3 separate regions of the Homo sapiens genome follow, and all the other regions are linked to region 1. The links come from fine-mapping of genetic effects on gene expression. A gene starts in region 1. Each other region holds a variant in brackets. All regions are shown on one strand. Distances are between the middles of the regions.

The links. PIP is the estimated chance that this variant, and not a neighbour inherited with it, causes the effect.
Region 2: its variant is fine-mapped to the expression of PSMB5 in subcutaneous fat (GTEx, PIP 0.98). The same link has a PIP of 0.9 or more in thyroid.
Region 3: its variant is fine-mapped to the expression of PSMB5 in transverse colon (GTEx, PIP 0.97).

The regions. Positions count from the first base shown.
Region 1 is chr14:23,030,436-23,038,616 of GRCh38, forward strand. It overlaps PSMB5 (proteasome 20S subunit beta 5), which reads right to left and starts at 4,465. Exons shown (of 3, transcript NM_002797.5): 1 at 4,249-4,465; 2 at 2,933-3,239. The coding sequence starts at 4,446. RefSeq lists enhancers at 4,191-5,390, 4,191-4,860, 4,645-4,939.
Region 2 is chr14:22,998,758-23,006,938 of GRCh38, forward strand. C14orf93 (chromosome 14 open reading frame 93) reads right to left here. Exons shown (of 7, transcript NM_021944.4): 2 at 1-645. The coding sequence starts at 266. It overlaps LOC124903286 (a long non-coding RNA gene), which reads left to right and starts at 3,669. Exons shown (of 2, transcript XR_007064075.1): 1 at 3,669-4,626; 2 at 7,811-8,181. RefSeq lists an enhancer at 7,884-8,181. The variant A/G (reference allele first, on the strand shown) is at 4,993.
Region 3 is chr14:23,009,779-23,017,959 of GRCh38, forward strand. It overlaps C14orf93 (chromosome 14 open reading frame 93), which reads right to left and starts at 365. Exons shown (of 7, transcript NM_021944.4): 1 at 323-365. RefSeq lists a silencer at 354-703. The variant G/A (reference allele first, on the strand shown) is at 3,417.

The DNA of each region.
Region 1 (8,181 bases):
CAGAGATGGCACCACTGCACTCCAGCCTGGGCGACAGAGCGAGACTCCGTCTCAATAAAAAAAAAAAAAGGTTATTTATCTTATTCAGCCTTGGGTTAACTAGTCATCCTTTGGTATATGAAGGGGATTTGTCCCAAGACCCCTGCATATACCAAAATCTATGCACACTCAAGTCCCAAAGTTGGCCCTGCAGAACCTGCATATATGAAAAGTTGGCCAGATATGGTGGCTCACGCCACCCAGCACTTTGGGAGGCTGAGGCAGGTGGATCACCCGAGGTCAGGAGTTTAAGACCAGCCTGGCCAACATGGTGAAACCCTGTCTCTACTAAAAATACAAAAGTTAGCTGGCAGGGTGGCGGGTGTCTGTAATCCCAGCTACTCGGGAGGCTGAGGCAGGAGATCACTTGAACCCAGGAGGTGGAGGTTGCAATGAACTGAGATCGCGCCATTGCACTCCAGCATGGGTGACAAGAGGAAAACTCCATCTCAAAAATAAATAAATAAATAAATAAATAAATTGGTCCTCTGTATATTTGGGTTTCAAATTCTGGGAATGTGTATTTTCAATCAGAATTAGGTTGAAAAATACCTGCGTATAAGTGGACCTGAGTGATTCAAACCCATGTTGCTCAAGGGCCAACTGTAATATGAGGCAAGGGGCTGACTCACAATGAATGGGACAGGGTCATCAGGAAGGCCTCTTGAAGAAGGCACTGTTTAAATGATGCTCAGTCTCCCTGGATTTTCCTTGTTACCCGGTCCCTGTACTCTTTTACACTGTTTCCATCACCTAGAACAAATCCGCCAGCTAAAGGTTCAAAGCAACATTTCCAAAATGCTTCCCTGGATCACGTAAAATGTATGGAACTGTCTTTTCCCACCTTTCAGAGAAAAGCATCTCAATTTCCAAAGTAACAAAGTGAGCTCCTCTCTCACATCCGGTTTTTAATTTCCTTTCATCCTCCATTGGGTAGTAAGTGGATACTCCCTACAGCCCTTTCTATTCTCGTTTGAAAGCAAGTGAAAAAGTGGTAGGTACCCTATAATTGTTCTATAAGATAACTAGGTATTTAGTAAGCAGGTAAATGAATGAAGCAAAATCAAAAGGAGGAAAGAATAATTATTTTTAAGCATATGGAAGGGAAAATTAGAAGGTGACTAGCTATACTCCAACTTTACTAAACGGGCAATTCAAAACTGGCTGATGAGGAAATGACATTAAATACAAAGTTGAACTGTCTGGCAAGTTTCTTAAATGCTGGAAAGGAAAAACAGGCTAAGGAACTTATTTTCAGAGATGATAGAACCGGACCTAGCATGATTGTAAGGGTGATTATAACCAGCAAAGAAATAAAAGAAATGAGCCCAGGACTAGGCGCAATGGCTCACTCCTGTAATCTCAACACTTTGGCAGGCTGAGGTGGGCAGATCACCTGAGGTCAGGAGTTCAAGACCAGCCTGGCCAACATGGTGAAACCCTGTCTCTACTAAAAATACAAAAATTAGACGCGCATGGTGGCATATGCCTGTAGTCTCAGCTACATGGAAGGTTGAGGCAGGAGAATCACTTGAACCTGGGAGGCAGAGATTGCAGTGAGCTGAGATCCCGCCGCTGCACTCCAGTCGGGGCGACAGAGCGAGACTCCATCCCCACCCCCTCAAAAAAGAGAGGAGCCCAAAAGGCCCCTTCTAGGCCAAAGACTCTCTAAAGAAAAAAAGAGAAGAGGCCGGGTGCAGCGGCTCACGCCTTTAATCCTGGCACTTTGGGAGGCTGAGGCGGGTGAATCACCTGAGGTCAGGATTTCGAGACCAGCCTGGCCAACATGGTGAAACCCCATCTCTACTAAAAATATAAAATTAGCTGGGCATGCTGGTGGGCGCTTGTAATCCCAGGTACTTGGGAGACTGCGGCAGGAGAATCACTTGAACCCAGGAGGCAGAGGTTGTAGTGAGCTGAAACAATGCCATTACACGCCAGACTGGACGATCGGAGTGAAACTTTGCATCTCAAAAAAAGAAAAAAAGAAAAAAACAGAAGAGAAATGACTAACTTTTGAGGGACAACCATATATTAGAGTCCAATACAGTAGCCACAAGCCACACATGGTCAATGAACACTTGAAATAGCACTACTGCCACATGTGGGATTCAACGAATTCTTTTTTTTGTTTTTTTTTTTGAGACAGAGTCTCGCTCTGTTGCCCAGGCTGGAGTGCAGTGGCACCATCTCGACTCACTGCAAGCTCCGCCTCCTGGGTTCACACTATTCTCCTGCCTCAGCCTCCTGAGTAGCTGGGACTACAGGCGCCTGCCACCACGCCTGGCTAATTTTTTGTATTTTTGGTAGAGACGGGGTTTCACCTTGTTAGCCAGGATGGTCTCGATCTCCTGACCTCGTGATCCACTGTCTCAGCCTCCCAAAGTGCTGGGATTACAGGAGTGAGCCACCACGCCCGGCCTTCAACGAATTCTTAAATTCTTTTTTTTGAGACAGAGTCTCACTCTGTCGCCCAGGCTGGAGTGCAGTGGCGCGATCTCTGCTCACTGCAACATCCACCTCCTGGGTTCAAGCAATTCTCATGCCTCAGCCTCCTGAGCAGCTGGTATTACAGGCGCCCGCCACCACGCCGGGCTAATTTTTGTATTTTTAGTAGAGATGGGGTTTCGCCATGTTGGCCAGGCTGGTCTTGAATTCCTGAACCTGGGGGCGGAGGCTGCAGTGAGCTGAGATCATGCCACTGCACTCCAGCCTGAGCGACAGAATGAGACACAGTCTAAAAAAACAGGAAAAAAAAAAAGAGAGAAGGAAGGGCTAAGGACCTAATTACACTTCTTCAGCATTGACACCAAGCCCTTTAATTCATCTGTCCATCCAACCCCTCCTCACTGTAGTGTCAGCCCAAGGATCATGTGGTTGCAGCTTAACTCACCAGGGCCTCTCTTATCCCAGCCACAGATCATGGTGCCCATGGACAGCCCCATGCCTTTGTACTGATACACCATGTTGGCAAGCAGTTTGGAGGCAGCTGCTACAGAGATGCGTTCCTTATTTCGAAGCTCATAGATTCGACATTGCCGAGCCAACAGCCGTTCCCAGAAGCTGCAATCCGCTGCGCCCCCAGCCATGGTGCCTAGCAGGTATGGGTTGATCTCTATCACCTTCTTCACCGTCTGGGAGGCAATGTAAGCACCCGCTGTAGCCCTGGAGTCAGCTGCAACTATGACTCCATGGCGGAACTGTTAAGATCAGAGGAAAACACAAAACAGGCCACATAAGACCACAAAAACACTCCTACATACTTCTTTTTGCATCAATCCAAACCCAGCACATCTCTTTCTCCGTCCTTTTATACTTCACAGTATACTTCTATACTTCACCATATATTAATGTCACCCGAGCTTCACATCAATCCCTTGACATGGATATAACCCATATTAAATTCATTTTATAGGATGGGCGTGGTGGCTCACTCCTGTAACCCAGGCATTTTGGGAGACCAAGGCGGGAGGACCGCTTGAGGCCAGGTGCTGGAGACCAGCCTGGGCAACACAGGGAGATCCATCTCTACAAAAAGTAAAAAAACTTAGCCTGTCGTGGTGGTGTGTGCCTATAGTGTCAGCTACTCTGGAGGCTGAGGCGCTGGAGCCACTGCACTCCAGCCTGAGCGACAGCGAAAAGCCCTGTTTCAAAAAAAAAAAAAAAACAAATCATTTTATAGATGAGGAAACAGGTTCAATGAAATCAAATGATTTCTCAATCTAGAGCTAGTTATTGCAGAGCTGGGCAAGGAACCCCAAATGTCTGATTCTTAGTACAATGCTTACCCTCACCACGCTTCCCCTTCATGCCAGTTTCAGTTACCCCTGCCTTGAGGGGCCGCCCAGTTTCCAAAACTTTGGTAAACGTTTACAATAGCCTTCCCTCGGCCAAGATTCATTGTTGTTGCGGCCTTTCCCAGCTAGAAGATCCTGAACAGCAGCAACCTGGGGTCGCCTAGGAATCAACCCAAGAGGCCTCACCTTCCTCCCCCGACTTACCCCCGGCCCCACCGCCACCCTTTCCAACCAGAGCAAAGACAGGGGCCTCCTGGGCCAATGAGACAGCAAAACTGCTGCGGTCCGAACGAGAGGACCCAGCCTCCGCCTGGGTTGGTGGCCAAGGCCACCGCAAACTCCGGTCAGGCTGGGAGGCCAGGCAAGTCGCGGGCGTTCAGTACTCAGCCTGGCAAGGGGGCTGGCTCCACACCTTGAAGGCCAGGGTGGTTGTTCCATGAAGCATTTCGATTCCTGGCTCTTCTGGGACACCCCAGCCTGGCGCGGCCAGGCTCAGACCATCACTGAGACTCCCTGGACCTAGATCCAGCAGATCTGCACGACCCCCAAGTCCGAAAAACCCGCGCTGGTTCACCGGTAGCGGTCTCTCCAACACGCTGGCAAGCGCCATGTCTAGTGTGGGCAGAAAGAACTAATTCTGAGAACGCCTAGCAAAGATAGGCCGGGCAACGCCTCGCCGTCACAGCTTCACTTCCTATTAAATCTATTCCGGAATGGAGCCATTTTGACTGCTGGCAAGCACGCCTCCAAAAAGAAGAGCCAGATGCGAAAGACCATTTTCACTGAAGGGGGTCGGGGAAATAGATGGCTTCACTAACCTTAAATTCTAAAAGGACGTACCTGCCATCTTGGCTTTGGTCATGCAAGTAGTCCTGGATCAGAATAACCTCAAAATCACAGGAAGTGACTGAAAACGTCCATGTTGCGTAAGGGAAGTGAGGTCGGCCATCTTTGAGAAGGGCGTGACTGGTTGAAAATCGGTTCTGAACCCTTAGCGGTGAGTCCTCCCACTCCAGCCTGGTGTCCAAGCAACAGGTTACATCGCTGCTGCTTCAGCACCTTGTTAACGCGCCTGAGGTTGCCATCTTGTTTAAGGGCACCTTCTAAAATTGGGTAAAATAATGATCCATTCTGAGGCCATTTCCCTATATTAGTTAAACCACAGCAATTAGTGGTAAAACAACGCAACAAAATAAAAGTGCTATACCTCTTGTTGTCAGTCGCCATACAGCAACCCTTCTTTAACAGTAACCGGTTATTAATATCCAATATTCGTTCTCTTGACTCCTACCTTCTGGTGGAAATTCGAATAAGTAATGAATTGCCTAAAAGGCAGATGGAAGAAGAAAAAGCAAAGGGTCCAGTTAATCCACAAACTAGATTCTCAGTTCAGACCTGAATAAGTGTCAGTAGTAATTTACCATCTCAGAGACGGGAGGACGGTTGAGACTGCATAAATATGTACCAAGAGATTCTCTAACTTCAACTTGCTAAGATGATGCCTTTTATTCAGGAACATACTATATTTCATTGCCTCTTCCTCCCTCCACCCACCTTCATTTTTCAAATCTTTTGGGAACTATAACAAACCGGGAAGTGTGCATATGTATGAAATGTTGCCTCCTGCTTTATGGTTCTATGAAGTCAGTCTCTGGCCTTCCTTGTTGGATTCTAGCAGCAACATCTATCAACACCGAAATTCCACTTTCCTCTGATGCCCAGTTCGGCCCCATCTTTCCCCCAGCAGACTCTGCATATGCTGTATTGTTTTTGTTTGTTTGTTTGTTTGTTTTTTGAGACCAAGTCTTGCTGTGTCCCCCAGGCTGGAACACAGTGGCACGATCTCTGCTCACTGCAACCTCTGCTTCCCAGGTTCAAGCGATTCTCCTGCCTCAGCCTCCCGAGTAGCTGGGATTACAGGCGCCTGCCTCCACAACAGGCTAATTTGTGTGTGTGTGTGTGTGTGTGTGTGTGTGTGTGTGTGTGTGTGTGTTTAGTAGAGACGGGGTTTCACCGTGTTAGCCAGGATGGTCTTGATCTCCTGACCTCGTGATCCACCCACCTCGGCCTCCCAAAGTGCTGGGATTACAGGCATGAGCCACCGTGCCCGGCCTCACGCCTGGCTAATTTTTGTATTTTTAGTAGAGATGGGGTTTCACCATATTGGCCACGCTGGTCTCAAACTCTTGACCTCAGGTGATCCGCTTGTTAGCCAGGATGGTCTTGATCTCCTGACCTCGTGATCCACCCACCTCGGCCTCCCAAAGTGCTGGGATTACAGGCATGAGCCACCGTGCCCGGCCTCACGCCTGGCTAATTTTTGTATTTTTAGTAGAGATGGGGTTTCACCATATTGGCCACGCTGGTCTCAAACTCTTGACCTCAGGTGATCCGCTTGCCCCGGCCTCCCAAAGTGCTGGGATTACAGGTGTGAACCACTGCGCCTGGCCTATGCTGTATTTTTAATGCTGAAATTGGCAACCCTTTCCAAGCCCAATCATCAGAATAGAATTAAACAGGAGATCTTTGTGTTTCACACTTGGATGATGTGGAAAATGCGGAGTGCGTCTGTTTACTGAGCATATATTATTTTGCAGTCACCCCTGCAGTGCAACTAGTCTTTCTGCCTCCTTCCAGTGGTTTTTCACTCTGCCACTGATAGCATGTGTACCTCTCTTAAGGCCCTTTTACATTTTACCTGGTTAGAAATTACATTTATCTCCTACCGGATTGTGAGCTTTTAAATACAAGTACTTACTATTCATTTCTGTACCCACTGTATGCTTAATACATATTTGCCAAATGAACACCTGAAAGAATGACAGCAGTGGTCTTCTAGTCAAAAAGGCTTGAAGTCCTTGCTTATCTTTTACAGCTTTTTTCTTTCCTTCATATCCAGTTAGTTGCATGGTCCTGTTGATTATTTCCACTTCAGTGTTTCTCACATTCTTTTTCATTACAACTGATACCACCTTTGGCTTCTTATGTCCTCATTCTGGAATTGCTGAAATATTCTCCTTATTTTATTTTATTTTTTTGAGATGGAGTCTCGCTCTGTCGCCCAGGCTGGAGTGCAGTGGCGCAATATTGGCTCACTGCAACCTCTACCTCCTGGATTCAAGTGATTCTCCTGCCGTAGCCTCCCAAGTAGCTGGAACTACAGGTGTGTGCCACCATACCTGGATAATTTTTTTTTTTTTTGAGACGGAGTCTCGCTCTGTCACCCAGGCTGGAGTGCAGTGGCACAATCTTGGCTCACTGCAAGCTCCGCCTCCCGGGTTCACGCCATTCTCCTGCCTCAGCCTCCCGAGTAACTAGGACTACAGGCGCCCGCCACCATGCCCGCTAATTTTTGTTTTTTTTTGTATTTTTTAGTAGAGATGGGGTTTCACCATGTTAGCCAGGATGAATTGCCTGGATAATTTTTTTTTTTTTTGTATTTTAAGTAGAGATGGGATTTTGCCATATTGGCCAGGCTGGTCTTGAACTCCCAACCTCAGACGATCTGTCTGCCTCAGTCTTCCAAAGTGCTGGGATTACAGGTGTGAACCACCATGCCTGGCCTTCTCCTAACTGATTTATGGGTCTAAATTGTCACTCTCTAATTCATTCTGCACAGCATCAGATTCGTTTTCCTAAAACACCATTTTTTTTTTTAATTGAGTTTTGCTATTGTCGCCCAGGCTGGAGTGCAGTGGCACGATCTCTGCTCACTGCAACCTCTGCCTCCCAGGTTCAAGCAATTCTCCTGCGTCAGCCTCCCGAGTAGCTGGGATTACAGGCGTGCGCCACCAGGCCCAGTTAATTTTTTTTCTTCTATTTTTAGTAGAGACAAGATTTTGCCATGTTGGGCGGGCTGGTCTTGAACTCCTGACCTCAGGTGATCTGCCCGCCACAGCCTCCCAAAGTGCTGGGATTACAGGCGTGAGCCGCTGCGCCCAGCCTAAAACATCATCTCGATCTTAACACTCACCTGCTTAAAAATGTTCTGTGGGCCAGGCGCGGTGGCTCACGCCTGTAATCCCAGCACTTTGGGAGGCCGAGGTGGGCGGATCACGAGGTCAGGAAATCAAGATCATCCTGACTAACACGGTGAAACCCTGTCACTACTAAAAATACAGAAAATTAGCCAGGCGTAGTGGCACCGCCTGTAGTCCTAGCTACTCTAGAGGCTGAGGCAGGAGAATTGCTTGAACCCGGGAGGCAGAGGTTACAGTGAGCAGAGATTGTGCCACTGCACTCCAGTCTGGGCGACAGAGTGAGACTCCGTCTCAAAAAAAAAAAAAAAAAAAAAAAAGTTTTGTGAATTCAAGCTCCTCAGCATAGCATTCAAGGCCTTCCATAA
Region 2 (8,181 bases), 32 kb before region 1:
AACTCATTGTTGGCCCTGGCAAGACCCAGAGCAGCTTCAGCCAAACCCACTGCCTTATCGACCCGCTGGTAGATAACATGCAGGAGCTGCTCTGAGCTCTGAACAGCCAAGCCATGTCCAGTCACTGTGATGGGGGTGCTGGGAGGAGGATTCCCACCCTGGGAGCCTGTGTTGCCTCCATTAGTCTCACTCTTACAGGCGCAGCAGCAGCATCTGGCCTCGCTGCCACTGGGAGGGGAGAAGAGAATGGTGGCACTGAAGGACATGGCGGATGGGGCAGTAACAACCACGCTTACACTGCTGGGCCGCTCCAACAGGTAGGAAGCATCAACTTCTCTGGACTCACTTTCCTTTCTCAATGAGGATGGTCAGAGGAGCCCAGGCCCCAAGCTGTAGGGTCTGTGAAAGAAGAGTAAACAAGCCATGAAGAAGCACACAGTCCATGGCGGCCTCTCCTCGGCCTGCAGAAGGGAGACAGGTGCCTTCTATTTGCAGATCCTGTGCTCTCCTAGCACATCACAAATCAAGGCCTTCCTGATGAACGGTTTCAGACGGTAGAGAGCATTCCTTCTGCCCCCCAGCATGGAACCCCCGACTAGTGCAACCTAAGGAACAGGGAAGGGATTCAGAAGGACCTTCCGGCATCTGGAAAGATTAGAAGATTAAGGAAGAAAATGTAGATCTGTCTCCTCCTCCTCCTCACCATCTTTACTGTAATAATGGTACTGCATTTCATTGCTTTGACATTGTTCCTTAAGGTGTTCAGAACACTTCACATAAGTTACCTCATCTACTCAACAGCACTAGGAAACATATTACTCCAGGTCCAGAGAAGAGACATGTGGAGAAGTTATATGTCTTTTTCAAGGTCAGAGGAATAACAGCAGAATCCAGTTATTGCTACTTTCAATGTAGTGTTGTATTTTTTTTTAACTGATACCACTTTTTGTTGACATTAACAATCATGACAATCATGATTCTACCCTCTCTGTAATTTTCATACAAATGCATTCAGAGTAACACTCCTAAATAAGGAATACATCCATCACTGCAGCCCTCAGCATGTCACCAACTTCTCACTGTTATATTATATCATTAATGCTTTGGGGATGAGGGCAGGGAAATGAAATGAAAAGATCAGGGAATTGAGCTGGGGTAACCCAGGGCTGCACAGCCCCCTTTCCCACATAGTCGTGTACCTGGGCCATGAGCCTCTGTAATGGAAACTAGCTGTCCTGAATCTTCCAGCCAGGAGCCCAGAGAAATCACCCGTGGGGCCCCTTATCTTCATTTCTCAAGCTCCTTAAGGGTGGATCCAAAATTCAACAGGAATGTTTGAACAGCTATGCTGTCACTTTGCCTGCATGACCAGCCCCCATTAAAGGAGAAACCAGAATGTCAGTAATAAACCAAACTGCCTTTCTTTTAAATTACTGTAGTTAAGCAACTAAACTACTCCAGGAGAGAAAAAAAGGGGTAAAGAAGTTGATTTGTACCACTGAGAACACTCCCGGGAACTTAATAAATATTGTAATTTTCTAAATAATACTTGATGATAGAAAAAAAATCCTTCTGATGTGCCATGTCAAAACCTTAAGTATGTTTACAATTTCTCTGAGAGATGCATTTCTCTCTTACCCTGTAAATTAAAACATCACAATTAAAAGGAGAGGAGGAGCCGGGCATGGTGGCTCACGCTTGTAATCCCAGCACTGTGGAAGGCTGAGGTGGGCCGATCACCTGAGGTCAGGAGTTTGAGACCAGCCTGACTAACATGGTGAAACCCTGTCTCTACTAAAAATACAAAAATTAACCGGGCGTAGTGGCGGGCATCTGTAACCCCAGCTACTCGGGAGGTTGAGGCAGGAGAATCACTTGAACCCGGGAGGCAAAGGTTGCAGTGAGCCGAGATGGTGCCACTGCACTCCAGCCTGGCAACAGGGCGAGACTCCACCTCAAAAAAAAAAAAAAAAAAAAAAGAGTAGGAGGTTAAGAGAATTTTCTATATATTGAGGGTTTTCTTTTTTCTTTTTGAATAGGCAATCTCATTTCAGAAAGAGGCAATATCAATGCCTCTGAGGTACTAAAACATAAATCTGACAATGCATTTTAATTACATGTGGTTATTAAAGAATAGTCTTTAATTTGCTCTTTCCACCCTTTATATCGAAGAAATGGCTTTTTCTGTGCCAGATACTTACTTCTCGCAAAAGCTTAACTCAAATACATTTACAGCTTCCTTGTCATTATAGTCACTGGGAGGCACAGCTAAACCTGAAACTAAAGGTTAAACCAAATTAAAACTAAAGGTTAAAGGAAAGCACTAAGCACTTCTATGTCAATTTATAGATGAATCACTTATGTATTCTTTTCCTTCCTAAATAAGGGCCTACACTGCTCCTGCAGAGCTTTTTCTTTTTAATTCTTTATTTAACCTACATCATGCAGGGAGTTTGCTCTTAAACATAGATGCTGTGGGCAAAAGAATGTTTTGGTGATAATAAATAATAGTATTCAAATGCTTGCCAGCTGGGTTCAGTATTTGTAAAATCAGTAATTAAGATGCATCCGGCTGGGACACTGGCTGAGTTGTCTAACTCCTTTCTGGTACCAAACTCTCTTGCCTCACGCACTTACTCTTTCTTGCAAGAGGCTTTTACCCCTACCAGTGTTGAGCCTGCCTCAAGCTCTTCCCCTCTCTTTTATTTTTATTTATCATTTTTTTGAGACGGAGTCTCGCTCTGTTGCCCAGGCCAGAGTGCAATGGCAAGATCTCGGCTCACTGCAAGCTCTGCCTCCCAGGTTCAAGTGATTCTCCTGCCTCAGCCTCCCAAGTAGCTGGGATCACAGACACGTGCCACCACATATGGCTAATTTTTATATTTTTAGTAGAGACAGGGTTTCGCGCTGTTGGCCAGGCTGGTCTTGAACTCCTGACCTCAGGTGATCCACCCGCCTCAGCTTCCCAAAGTGTTGGGATTACAGGTGTGAGCCACTGCGCCCAGCTCCTTCTTCTTTAAATAGTCTTTCCTTGGTCGTCCTTCCTTGGTCATCTTTCCAAAACAGCACTGTACTGCAGGTTAAAAAAAAAAAAAAAAAAAAAAAAAAAAGGGCTGGGCGGTGGCTCACGCCTGTAATCCCAGCACTTTGGGAGGCCGAGGCCGGCGAATCACGAGGTCAGGAGATGGAGACCATCCTGGCTAACACAGTGAAACCCCGTCTCTACTAAAAATACAAACAAATTAGCCGGGCGTGGTGGCGGGCGACTGTAGTCCCAGCTACTCTGGAGGCTGAGGCAGGAGAATGGCGTGAACCCGGGAGGCGGAGCTTGCAGTGAGCCGAGATCGCACCACTGCACTCCAGCCTGGGCGACAGAGCGAGATTCCGTCTCAAAAAAAAAAAAAAAAGGGTGGCCGGGCGTGGTAGCTCACACCTGTAATCCCAATACTTTCGGAGGCTGAGGTGGGTGGATAACTTGACGTTAGGAGTTCTAGACCAGCCTGGCCAACATGGTGAAACCCTATCTCTACTAAAAATACAAAAAAATTGCCAGGCATGGTGATACTTGTCTGTAATCCCAGCTACTCAGGAGGCTGAGGGAGAAGAATTGCTTGAACCCAGGAGTCAGAGGTTGCAGTGAGCCGAGATCACGCCACTGCACTCCAGACTGGGTGATGGAACGAGACTCCATCTCAAAAAAAAAAAAAAAAAAATGAGGTTCTCCTCTGGCTGCACCATTTATGAGCTGTGTGAACATTAGTAAATTATTTCACTTTTCTGAGACCAAGTTTCTTCATCACTATCTACTTTGAGTGGTTTTTGTGAAGATTATACATAATATATGTAAGGCACCTATAGAGTGCTGGCACATGGTCAGTGCTCCACTAGTAACGGCTGGATGATATTATGGTTATTCCTGTAACATTTTGTGTTCCCAACCTGGACACCCACCCTGATTCCTTAATCTTTTTTTTTTTAAGAGGCGGGGTCTTGCTATGTTGCCCAGGTTGGTCTTCAACTCCTGGCCTCAAGCCATCCTCCTGCCTCAGCCTCCTGAGTAGCTGGGATCACAGGTGCGAGCCACCACCTTGATTCCTGATTCCCTAATTTTGAATAAAATGCAATGGCTTGAAATAGAATTTGGGGAAATTTGCCCCCAAATTTAATATTGAATTTCTAACAAACAACACATTCCTCAAGTCTATGAGGATGCATTTATAGATACAAAACCTTCTATGACGCAAATTAGAAAGGTAATTTAGTATTTGTAATTTACTTGCTATCATGACCTGGTCTCAGACTAAGGATAATATTTTATGCTAGTTTTTAATGCTAAATGTATTTTCCTATTGTGAGTTCAATTTGTTCCTCAATTGCTCTTCTGTTTTTCTACTTTGTATGTTACCATACTATGTCCATTTTAAAACATCACATTCAGGGCAACAAATAGGTGTTTTCCTGAATTAATTTGCCTATAAAAACTAGGTACAGTGTGGTCTAGCACAATGGGCATTCAAAGAATTCTTTTTTGGTTTCCATGGACACTATTGCTGACTTCATTTCCCAGCCTCTTGCTATAGTCTCTCACCTAAACTCTAAGATATGGAAAGATATTGGGATCAGCAGGTAATAAACGAGTATTTCACATTATATTTACTAACCAGGTAACTACTTAAGTGCTGGATAAATGACTCAAAACAAAACATTAATTTCATTAGCTGCATATACCCCCATTAAAGAAGGTGAGCTGGGCCAGGCACGTGGCTTACGCCTATAATCCCAGCACTTTGGGAGGCTGAGGTGGGCGGGTCACCTGAGGTCAGTTCGAGACCAGCCTGGCCAACATGGTGAAACCCTGTCTCTACTAAAGATACAAAAAACAAAACAAAAAAAAGTAGCCGCGCATGCTGGCGCGTGCCTGTAATCCCAGCTACTCAGGAGGCTGAGACAGGAGGATGGCTTGAACCCAGGAGGCAGAGGTTGCAGTGAGCC[A/G]AGATCACACCATTGCACACCAGCCTGGGAGACAGGGCGAGACTCCGGCTCAGAAAAAAAGAAGGTGAGCTGGTGAGTGGGGTGAGATATTTTTAGGCTAATATATTCATATATATATATATATATATATATATATATATATATATATATTTTTTTTTTTTTTTTTTTTTTTTTTTTTGAGACAGAGTCTCGCTCTGTCGCCCAGGCTAGAGTGTGGAGGCACGATCTTGGCTCACTGCAACCTCCACCTCCCAGGTTCAAGCAATTCTCCTGCCTTAGCCTCCAGAGTCGCTGGGACTACAGGCATGTGCCACCACTCCCAGGTAATTTTTGTATTTGTAGTAGAGATAGGGTTTCACCATATTGGCCAGGCTGCTCTTGAACTCCTGACCTTGTGATCCGCCCTCCTCAGCCTCCCAAAGTGCTGAGATTACAGGCGTGAGCCATCGTTCCCGGCCAAAATATATATATATATATTTGATACAGAGTCTCACTCTGTCGCCCAGGCTGGAGTGCAGTGGCACGATTTCGGCTCACTGCAACTTCTGCCTCCCAGGTTCAAGCGATTCTTCTGCCTCAGCCTCCCGAAGAGCTGGGATTACAGGTATGCACCACCACACCTGACTAATGAATGCTGACCTCAAGTGATCCGCCCACCTTGGCCTCCCAAAGTGCTGAGATTACAGGTGTGAGCCACTGTGCCCAGGCCCAAAAGTTTTTTATATGTAAGTCCATGTTAAAGGATGACTCACCAAAATGCATTGCACACTACTCAAATGAAAGGAAGACAAAGTCTCTACCTATAAGGCACTTAAAGTGTATTTCAGATGGGAATGTCTAAAGAATATGGGATGTTCTAAACATGGACTATCTAAAAAACAAATTGAGGCCAGGTGCAGTGGCTCAAACCTATAATCTCAGCACTTTGGGAGGCTGAGGCGGGTAGATCACCTGAGGTCAGGAGTTCGAGACCAGCCTGACCAACATGGAGAAACCCTGTCTCTACTAAAAATACAAAATTAGCTGGGTGTGGTGGCACATGCCTGTAATCCCAGCTACTCGGGAGGCTGAGGCAGGAGAATCACTTGAACCCGGGAGGTGGAGGTTGCAATGAGCCAAGATCGCACCACTGCACTCCAGCCTGGGCAACAAGAGTGAAACTCCGTCTCAAAAATAAATAAACAAACAAATAAATAACAAAGTGAAATACACACAAGTCCTAATAATATGGTATAGACTGAAAAATTTCTGAGGCGTTAGTTCAAAATAATGGAAACATTAACAAAATGAAATCATACTGAGAAAGAGTTCTTACAGAAGAAAAGCTTCCAGTTGAGCCTTGAGCAATGTATAGGATTAACTGATAGGGTAGTAAGACATTCTAGAGGAAAAAAAAAAAATTACAGGACTTAACAGGGTACATGTCAGAGGTCAGAGCAAAGGCGCTTATATAGTAAGATAAGGAGAATTGACAGAGTTATAGAGATGGGGTATAGAGATAATTGGTTAAAGACAACTGCAAGGTTATAAGCCTAAGAGTAACAGGATGGTACCACCACCACCACCAGAATGACAGAAATGAGGCAGTTGAGAGGAAATACCATGGCTGGGCATGGTGGCTCATGCCTGTAATCCCAGCACTTTGGGAGGAGGAGGATCGCTTGAGCCCAGGAGTTTGAGACCAACCTCGGCAGCATAGCAAGACCCAGTCTCTAAAAAATAAATAAATAAAAAGAGGAGACACCAGTATATTAGAGAAGAAGTGTATTTATTTAACATTTTAAATTTCAAATGATGGCAACATGTTTAAGTAGAAAGTCCTGAAAACAACTGACTAGGTCTAAAAAAGAGAAAAAGATCTTCAATCTTGGGATGCGTTGCCAACACAACATGACAGTAGATGTCACACTTAGGTTTGCAAAAAATATAAGCATTTGGGGTTCATTTCAGTATTGGTCTAATTTAAATAAATGTGAAACGAGCCTTAAAAATGTACTTTCCAGTACTTTTGGTATTTTTCATAAATATTTAGATAAAAAAGAAAGACAATTCATCTCCTTTAGACAGACAGTTCAGGGTAAGACTGTCCATAATTTTAACTATCCCTTTCCTCCCAAGTCACATTTTTGTTAGGACTAAATATATCATACTCTTGGCAGTTCCCTTGCTTGCTTTCTCCCCATTCTGAGTTTGAATTTTCTGCATGACTGAGTTCACCTCCAAACTATGAAAAATAAAAGTTTTCTCACTATTTAATAGATGTGTATGATATGGTATCACTCAGATGATATATGTTTTTATAATGGGTGCTTGACTCATTCAGGGTCATGCTAGCAATAGACTTCCTTAAATGTGATTACTGAAAGCATGGCAATTCATATCATAATCTTCATTTTAAGAAATAAATAAGGAAAACGGCCACTTAAAGCTCCTGCTGTGTTGGTCAGTCCTACTCCTCCACTTCAAGGTGCAAAATGGCTCACCTGTCAAAAGGTTCTCTCAAAACCTATTTTTATCAGAAATGAGCTCCTTATCACACAAGAGCAGCTAAGTAAATACCACAAAATACTATTTTCCCACATTTTAAAAGAGTGACTCGACTAATGGTCTGCAAAAAATCCAAGACCTTATTTTTAGGGGTAAAAAAGAGAGCTGTAGACCCAGAAGGCCGAATGCGGTCTTTAAAGGATTCCACGTAATCTGAAAATTCCACGTATATTTCTATAGCAGGATGAGAATTTTTAGCCCAGTATAGCACAGTCCTTTTTATTTACATTTGCTAAGATTACATTGGTAAGATTAATATTTCCGATTTCAGGTTTGCCTAAAGGACCCACTGCATTTATGGAGAAACTGAAAAATGAAAAAGTAGCTCCTAGAACTCGTGCCAGCGAGAACTTGGTAAATGTTAGTTGATTAAATATTAGTCAAGGATGACAAGGTGGACCCCAGGGAGGGCAGAACCGTTTCCGATGGGTCAGTGTGATTCAGCTACGGGAAAGGCGATCGCAGCGACGCGGGAAGCAGAGATCGGCGACTGCTCAAGAGGCCTCAGGGGACAGGGTGACTCGCCACTGTGCCCTACCATACAGTGCGCTCTGGGAGTCCCGGGTAAAGGGGGTCATTCCCGCGAGGGATGCGGAGAGCAGAGCGGCCGGAGGAGCGGCTAGGGATCTCGCCGGGTCACCG
Region 3 (8,181 bases), 21 kb before region 1:
CTTCCCAAGCGGCTAAATTTTTAAAGTCCCTCAACCACAAAAATCTACCAGTTCTTAAAATGTGATTTAAAAAAAAGAAAAAAAAACTATAAATTTGGCCGGAAACGGTTGTACACGGCCATCCTGCTTCTCAACTTCTTGGTATATTTAAAACCTTGACCAGGAAAAAGAAAGAGGAAGAGAGACAGAAAAAGAAATGGGGGAAAGAGCAAATTCCCCTTAGCAACAGTTTCCTCACCCCAACACTGCTACAGATCTCTATTTTTAAAAAATTTGAAAACACACACAAGATTAAGGAGGAAAAAAAATGGAAAAAGGATACCCGAAGGTCGTATGGCTCTTTGTATTCGTGTGTGTGCAAAAAGGAGGACTCGCGGAGCCCGAGCCGGCAAGCCCCGCCCCTCCCCGGACGCCCTCCCGGATTGGCCGTCCGCGGCCGCGGGGCGCCCCGCCCGCAAGCACACGCGCCGCGCCCGAGGCGCCAACCCCGGAGTTGGGGGCGGGGGGGGCCCTGAGGGCCGCCGGACCCCCGACCCCCAACCTCGCCTGGACCTTGGCAGACCCCTTTCCCACCTCTCTCCCTTTCACTTTCTCACCGTCCTGTCACCCTTTCCCATCTTTTTTTCTCAGTGAAACAAGGCCCAGTCACCAGCATAACAATCCAGTGAGCGACCTCCGGACACTTTGTTAAATTGAGTGAACTAGTCAGTAACATTCTAGACTGCAATTAAACATCAGGGACTTGGTGCGTGGGCCCTACTCCGGTTTCCAGGTGAAATGTCTCTGGGTCACGTGTGTTGCTTAACACCCCCACGTTTAAATGAACATTCACGTATGGAACATCTTTCTGAAGTCTTACACTTCAGCCCGAGCTCCCAGTTTATCTACCTGGCTCAGACCACATTCTCAAAACTAAAGTGGCTCCTCTTTATTTCCAGGAAGACAGCTGGTATACCTGGATTTTAAGCCACCCATAATCTGGTCCCACCCACCTATTTGTTATTTATTTATTTATTTAGACAGAGTCTCGCTCTGTCACCCAGGCTGGAGTGCAGTGGTATGATCTTCGCTCACTGTAAACTCCGCCCCTCCGCCCCCACCCCCACCCCCACCCCCACCCCGCCCAAGCGATTCTCCTGCCTCAGCCTCCCAAGAAGCTGGGACTACAGGCGTGCGCCACTGCACCCAGCTAATTTTTTTTGTTTTTGGTAGAGACAGGGTTTCGCCATGTTGGCCAGGCTGGTCCTGAACTCCTGACTTGAGGTGATGTGCCCACCCTGCCTTTTTTTTTTTTTTTTCAGTGATGTGATCTCGGCTCACTGCAACCCCCACCTCCGAGGCTCAAGCGATTCTCCTGCCTCAGCCTCCCGAGTAGCTGGGATTACGGATATATGCCACCACGCCCGGCTATTTTTTTTTTTTAAGTAGTGACGGGGTTTCACCATGTTGGCCAGGCTGGTTTTGAGCTCTTGACCTCAAGTTATCCTCCCGCCTTGGCCTCCCAAAGTGCTGGGATTACAGGCGTGAGCCACCGCGCCTGGGCACATATTTGTTCTTAGTTCCCTCTACGCTCGTCTTATCAATCTTGTATTATTCCTTTACTCAAGTGGCTTTTTTTTTTTTTTTTGGCCTGAATTATGCGTCTCCCCTTCCCTGACTGGTCAATTTTTATCCATTCTCTTTCAGCACAGACTGCTTACTTCCTTCTCTCCGCTCCCATCAACATGAATTTCATGTGTACTCCAGTTAGCGGCACGTAACTCTACCTTGATTCACATATTTTAGTAATTTCACTCCAGTAAACTGTTTGAGGTCAGTGATCATATCTTAAAATTGTTTTTCCATCCAGGAACTGTTTGATTCTTACTGCAGTAGCTGGCATAATTGTAGATATTTAGTAAACACTGACCAAAAAAATCATTTATTTATTTATATTTATTTTTGAGCTGGAGTCTCGCTCTGTCGCCCAGGCTGGAGTGCAGTGGCCCGATCTCGGCTCACTGCAAGCTCCACCTCCCAGGTTCACGCCATTCTCCTGCCCCAGCCTCCCGAGTAGCTGGGACTACAGGCGCCCGCCACCAAGTCTGGCTAATTTTTTGTATTTTTAGTAGAGACGGGGTTTCACCGTGTTAGTCAGGATGGTCTGGATCTCTTGACCTCGTGATCCACCAGCCTCAGCCTCCCAAAGTGCTGGGATTACAGGCGTGAGCCACCATGCCGGGCCAAAAATCATTTATGATCAAATAAGTGAATTTCTTTTCTAGCTAAAACACAGATTCTGAAACTCACATCTCACAAGAATTTCCCTTCTATAGTAAGTAGCAATTTGTGAACACTTATTGTGCAGGAAGTAACTGTTCTGAACACTTTATGTGCATCAATTTAGGTATTATTATTATTATTTTTTTTTTTTATTTTTTATTTTTCGAGACAGAGTCTTTCTCTGTCGTCCAGGCAGGCGGATCACGAGGTCAGGAGTTCGAGACCAGACTGACCAACATGGTGAAACCCCGTCTCTGCTAAAAATACAAAAAGTTAGCTGGGCATCGTAATGCGCACCTGTAGTCCCAGCTACTTGGGAGGCTGAGGTAGGAGAATTGCTTGAACCCAGGAGGCAGAGGTTGCAGTGAGCCAAGATTGCGCCACTGCACTCCAGGCTGGAGGACAGAGCGAGACTCCATCTCAAAAAATAATAATAATAAAATAATAAGGCCGGGTGTGGTGGCTCACGCCTGTAATCCCAGCACTTTGGGAGGATGAGGCAGGCAAATCACCTGAGGTCAGGAGTTCAAGACCAGCCTGGCCAACATGGTGAAACCCCGTCTCTACTAAAAATACAAAAATTGGCTGGGCTTGGTGGCGCACGCCTGTAATCCCAGCTACTTGGGACGTTGAGGCAGGAGAATCCCTTTAACCTGGGAGGCAGAAGTTGCAGTGAGCTGAGATCGTGCCACTTAAAAATAAATTTTTTTTGGCCGGGCGCAGTGGCTCATGTCTGTAATTCCAGTACTTTGGGAGACCGAAGCGGCACGGCAGATCCCTTGAGCTCAGGAGTTGGAAACCAGCCTGGGCAACATAGTGAAACCCCTGTCTCTCCTAAAAATACACAAATTAGCTGGGTGTAGTGGTGCATGCCTGTAGTCCCAGCTACTCCGGAGGCTGAGGCACATTAATCACTTGAACCCGGAAGGCGGAGATTGCAGTGAGCCGAGATGGTGCCACTGCACTCCAGCCTGGGTGACAGAGCAAGACTTCGTCTCAAAAATAATAATAATCTAGGGACATGACAACTACATGCAAAGTATGATCTGGGTCAGAAGAAAAAATGCTATCCTGGACACTAACAGGATACTTGGGAAAATTAAATATGGCCTGGATATTAGATAATTTGATTGTAGCCAAGTTAGATTAGTGGC[G/A]TCACCATTTTACAAGAAACAGGTTCAGAGAGTACTTACTACAAATTTACATAGCTAATAGGCGACAGACCTGAACCCCCAAGCCAGCTGTCTTATCAAGCTGTTCAACATACACACACACACTCACACACACATTTTGACACTGGCCATCAGTCAGGCCTCGTCCATAAAATTGTTGGTTCTCAACGTCCAGGGCATTGTTGGTAGGATCTAGTTCTCAGCAGAAAGGCCTAATGCCTTCAGTGTTGTTTTCACCCTAGCAGCACCCTAGCTTAGGCAATAGATTTGCCTTTTACCTGAAAATGAGGTGCTAGTGTTTACTTTCTCAAGGGTTATAGACTTTCTGTGTTTCTTTTTTCTCTTTTTAGAGACAGGACCTCACTATGTTGCCTCGGCTGGTCTCAAACTCTTGGACTCAAGGGATCCTCTTGCCTCAGCCTCCCCAATAGCTGGTGCATGCTACTGTGCCCAACATGTGTTTCTTTTTATATGCTTTTCATTTAAACTTCTAAAAAATAACACAAGCCTAACTGGGCGTGGTGGCTCATGCCTGTAATCTGAGCACTTTGGAAGGCCAAGGCAGGTGGATCATTTGAGGTCAGGAGTTCGAGACCAGCTTGATCAACATGGTGAAACCCGTCTCTACTAAAATACAAAATTTAGCCGGGTGTAGTGGGGTGCACCTGTAATCCCAGCTACTTAGCCAGGTGTGGTGGTGTGCACCTGTAATCCCAGCTACTCTGTAGGGTGAGGCAGGAGAATCGCTTGAACCTGGGAGGCAGAGGTTGCAGTGAGCCGAGATTCCACCACTGCCCTCCAGCCTGGGTGACAAAGTGGGATTCTGTCTCAAAAAATAAATAAATAAATAAATAAAGCCATGAGATCACTAGGAAAATATTAAATATTAACTCTTGATGAGAATGTACTAGGACGTCTCATATTCTCAAATGCACAGGTGATATATTTTCTTTTTTTTTTTTTTTTGAGATGGAGTTTTGCTCTTGTTGCCCAGGCTGGAGTGCAGTGGCACAATCTCGGCTCACTGAAACCCCCGCCTCCTGGGTTCAAGCAATTCTCCTGCCTCAGCCTCCAGAGTAGCTGGGACTACAGGAGGCTGCCACCACACCCGGTTAACTTTTTGTATTTTTAGTAGAAACAGGTTTCACCATGTTGGCCAGGCTGGTCTTGAACTCCTGACCTCAGATCATCTACCTGCCTCGGCCTCCCAAAGTGCTGGGATTACAGGCATGAGCCACTGTGCCCAGCCACAGGTGATATATTTTCAAAAATGTTAGGATAAAGGGAAAACAGAAATGTTAATAATTATTAAAATCAACAGTTATTGAGAGTTTACTTGGTGCCAGGCACTCTGTATCTCATTTAATCAATTCTGTGAGATAAGTACTATTATACTCCCTCTTTTACTGAGGAGAAAACTGAGACTTAGAGGGGGATTGGTAAGTTACCTAGAGGTTGTTGAGCTAATTAACTCAATGGTGGTCACTAGTGGAATCATAGCTTGAACCCAGGTGTGCTCACTACAGAACCTGTGCTCTTGACTATTCATTAGTCTCTGTCTAAATTGAAACCCACTCTGCCTTGCTGTTACCCTCTTTTGCTCTCGTTCTGTCCATGAAAGACAAGCTGTCTTCACTTTGATGATCAATGGAATGTTCATAACTGCCATACAGTCTCCTGGGATATATTTTTAATTATGAGTCCATTACTACAAAGGTCAAAGTTAAGTTGGAAAAGCCATGTCTTTTTTTTTTTTTTGAGACAGAGTTTCACTCTTGTTGCCCAAGCTGGAGTACAATAGCACGATCTCGACTCACCGCAACCTCTGCCTCCCGGGTTCAAGCAATTCTCCTGCCTCAGCCTCCCAAGTAGCTGGGATTACAGGCATGCACCACCACACCCAGCTAATTTTGTATTTTTAGTAGAGACAGGGTTTCTCCATATTGGTCAGGCTGGTCTCGACCTCGACCAACCTCAGGTGATCCGCCCGCCTCGGCTTCCCAAAGTCCTGGGATTACAGGCCTGAGCCACCGCGCCTGGACTTTTTTTTTTTCTTTTTCTTTTTGAGACAGGATCACTTGCTTTGTCACCCAGGCTGGAGTGCAGTGGTGCAATCATGGCTCACTGCAGCCTCTACCTCCCGAGTAGCTCAGACTACAAGTGTGTGCCAATATGCCCAGCTAATTTTTAAAATATTTTGTAGAGATGGAGTCTAACTACGTTGCCCAGGCTGTTCTCGAACTCCTGGGCTCAAGTGATCCTCCCACCTTGGCCTCCCAAACAATTACAAGCATGAGCCACAGTGCCCGGCCTAAATTTCTATTTTCCCCATGGTCATAGGAGAATCTTTGAGTAGAAGGTTTGAGTAATGAACTTGTGTGCTGTTAGGTAATGAGAATAGGGAGAATATACCATTTTCACCTAAAAATTACAATTTTCACTCTAAAACATCTGAAATTTCAAATGTTAGACTTTACAGATGACTTGTCGATTGAGGAAAATCACTAATTTGGCTTTGAATCAAGCAGATCTTTTATTTTAGGCTGTTTCTGTTCAATGAGATCTGAAAGAGGCCTCCCCTACAGTGAAATGTAACTTCCCCTAGAGTGAGGCCGGGAAGCTGTTTCCGACAGTCATTCGTTAACACATGGGAGAGCATCTTAGAATAGGAGTGGAAGGAAATCCTACAGCTAGCTGAGAATATGTCCTAAGAGACACTGGAGAGGAAAGTATGAGAGAGCTGAGATTCAGAGTTGAGAAAGGGTACAGAAAGGTGGAAGGTAATGCAAAGGAAACAACAGAAAAGGAAGACGGCAGGCAGCAGAGAACAGCCCTCAAGGAAGAGAGAAGGGGTTTGTATTGTAGCAGGAGTGAAAGTAGATTCGATTTTAAAGAAAAAAGATCTGAATTTGATTGTTAGATGCAAAAATTTGATAAAAATTGTAGAAGCAACTGGAACATCTTAAGATCAGTTAAAAAAAAAGTGTCAAAAACCAAAACAAAACAAATTAAAATGCTATAACAGGCCAGGCACGGTGGCTTACTCACGTCTGTAATCCCAGCAGTTTGGGAGGCTGAAGTGGGCGAATCACCTGAGGTCAGGAGTTGGAGGCCAGCCTGGCCAATATGGTGAAACCCCGTCTCTACTAAAAATACAAAAATTAGCCGGGCTTCGTGGTGTGTGCCTGTAATCCCAGCTACTTGGGAGGCTGAGGCAAGAGAATCACTTGAACCTGGGAGGCAGAGGTTGCAGCAAGCCAAGATCGTGCCATTGCACTCCAGCCTGGGCGACAAGAGCCAAACTCTGTCTAAACAAACAAACAAACATGAAACTGTGAATGATATTTTATTTAGTCATTTTTGTTTACAATTGAAACTTTGGGAATTCAAAAGTAACATTCTTGCCTTTGAGCTTCTTTCAACCTACAAGAAAAGAAACAATCATCACAAAACTTTCAAATACACACACTCATCTTAAAACCTAATGATTTTGTGAAATTGTACCCCTTATGTTTTCTATTTGTTTGTTTGTTGTGAGATAGAGTCTCTTGCCCACCCTGGAGTGCAGTGGCATGGTCTTGGCTCTGCAACCTCTCCCTCCCAGGTTCAAGCAATTCTCCTGCCTCAGCCTCCTGAGTAGCTGGGATTACAGGCACCCGTCACCACGCCCAACTAATTTTTTTTTTTTTTTAGACTGAATCTTGCTCTGTCACCCAGGCTGGAGTGCAGTGGCACTATCTCGGCTTACTGCAACCTCTGTCTCCTGGGTTCAAGCGATTCTCCTGCCTCAGCCTCCTGAGTAGCTGGGATTACAGGCATGCACCACCAGTCCCGGCTAATTTTTGCATTTTTAGTAGAGACGGGGTCTCACCATGTTGGCCAGGCTGGTCTCGAACTCCTGGCCTCAGATGATCCACCCACCTCGGCCTCCCAAAGTGCTGGGATTATAGGTGCCTTTATGGTTTTTCTCCTTGGCAACCAGTTACTGTGAAAATCAAGTACTGTGAAGATACAGGGTACATCCACAAGTGTCCCAAGACCGAGAACAAGCTCATTTGCAATGCGTGGGACAGGATTCTGCAGCACTGCACCTAAGTGCTGTGCTCCTTTGCCATGTGGGTGTGTGTGAATTTTTCGTGGTGTTTCTACTGGAAGAGTCAGGACATTATTTGCAATCTGATTTATCTGTTTTCTTGTGATTAGGTTCAGGTTAAGCTTTTTTTTTTTTTTCTTTTTTGATACAGGGTCTTGCTCTGTCACCCAGGCTGGAGTGCAGTGATGTAATCACAGTTCACTGCAGCCTTGACATCCAAAGCTCATGCCATCCTCCTGCCTCAGCCTCCTGAGTAGCTTGGGACTACAAGTGCATGCCACCATGCCCTGCTAATTTTAAAAAGTTATTACTTGGTAGAGACAAGATCCCCCTATGTTGCCCCGGCTGGTCTCAAACTCCTGGGCTCAAGGGATCCTCCTGCCTTGGCCTCCCCAAATGCTGGAATTATAGGCATGAGCCACCACATCAGGGCCAAGGTTAAACATTTTTAGCGAGAATATTACTTAGGTAATTTTATATACTTCTTATTGTATCACATCAAGAGGCATATAATGTCAGTTTGTTCTATTATTGGTGACTGCAAGTTTATTCATGTCTGCTAGACGTCTCTGTTGTAGAAGTATATTTGCCATTTGTAATTAATTAGTAAACTAATAATAAATAGAGTGATTGTTATGGGCTGAAATGTGTTCC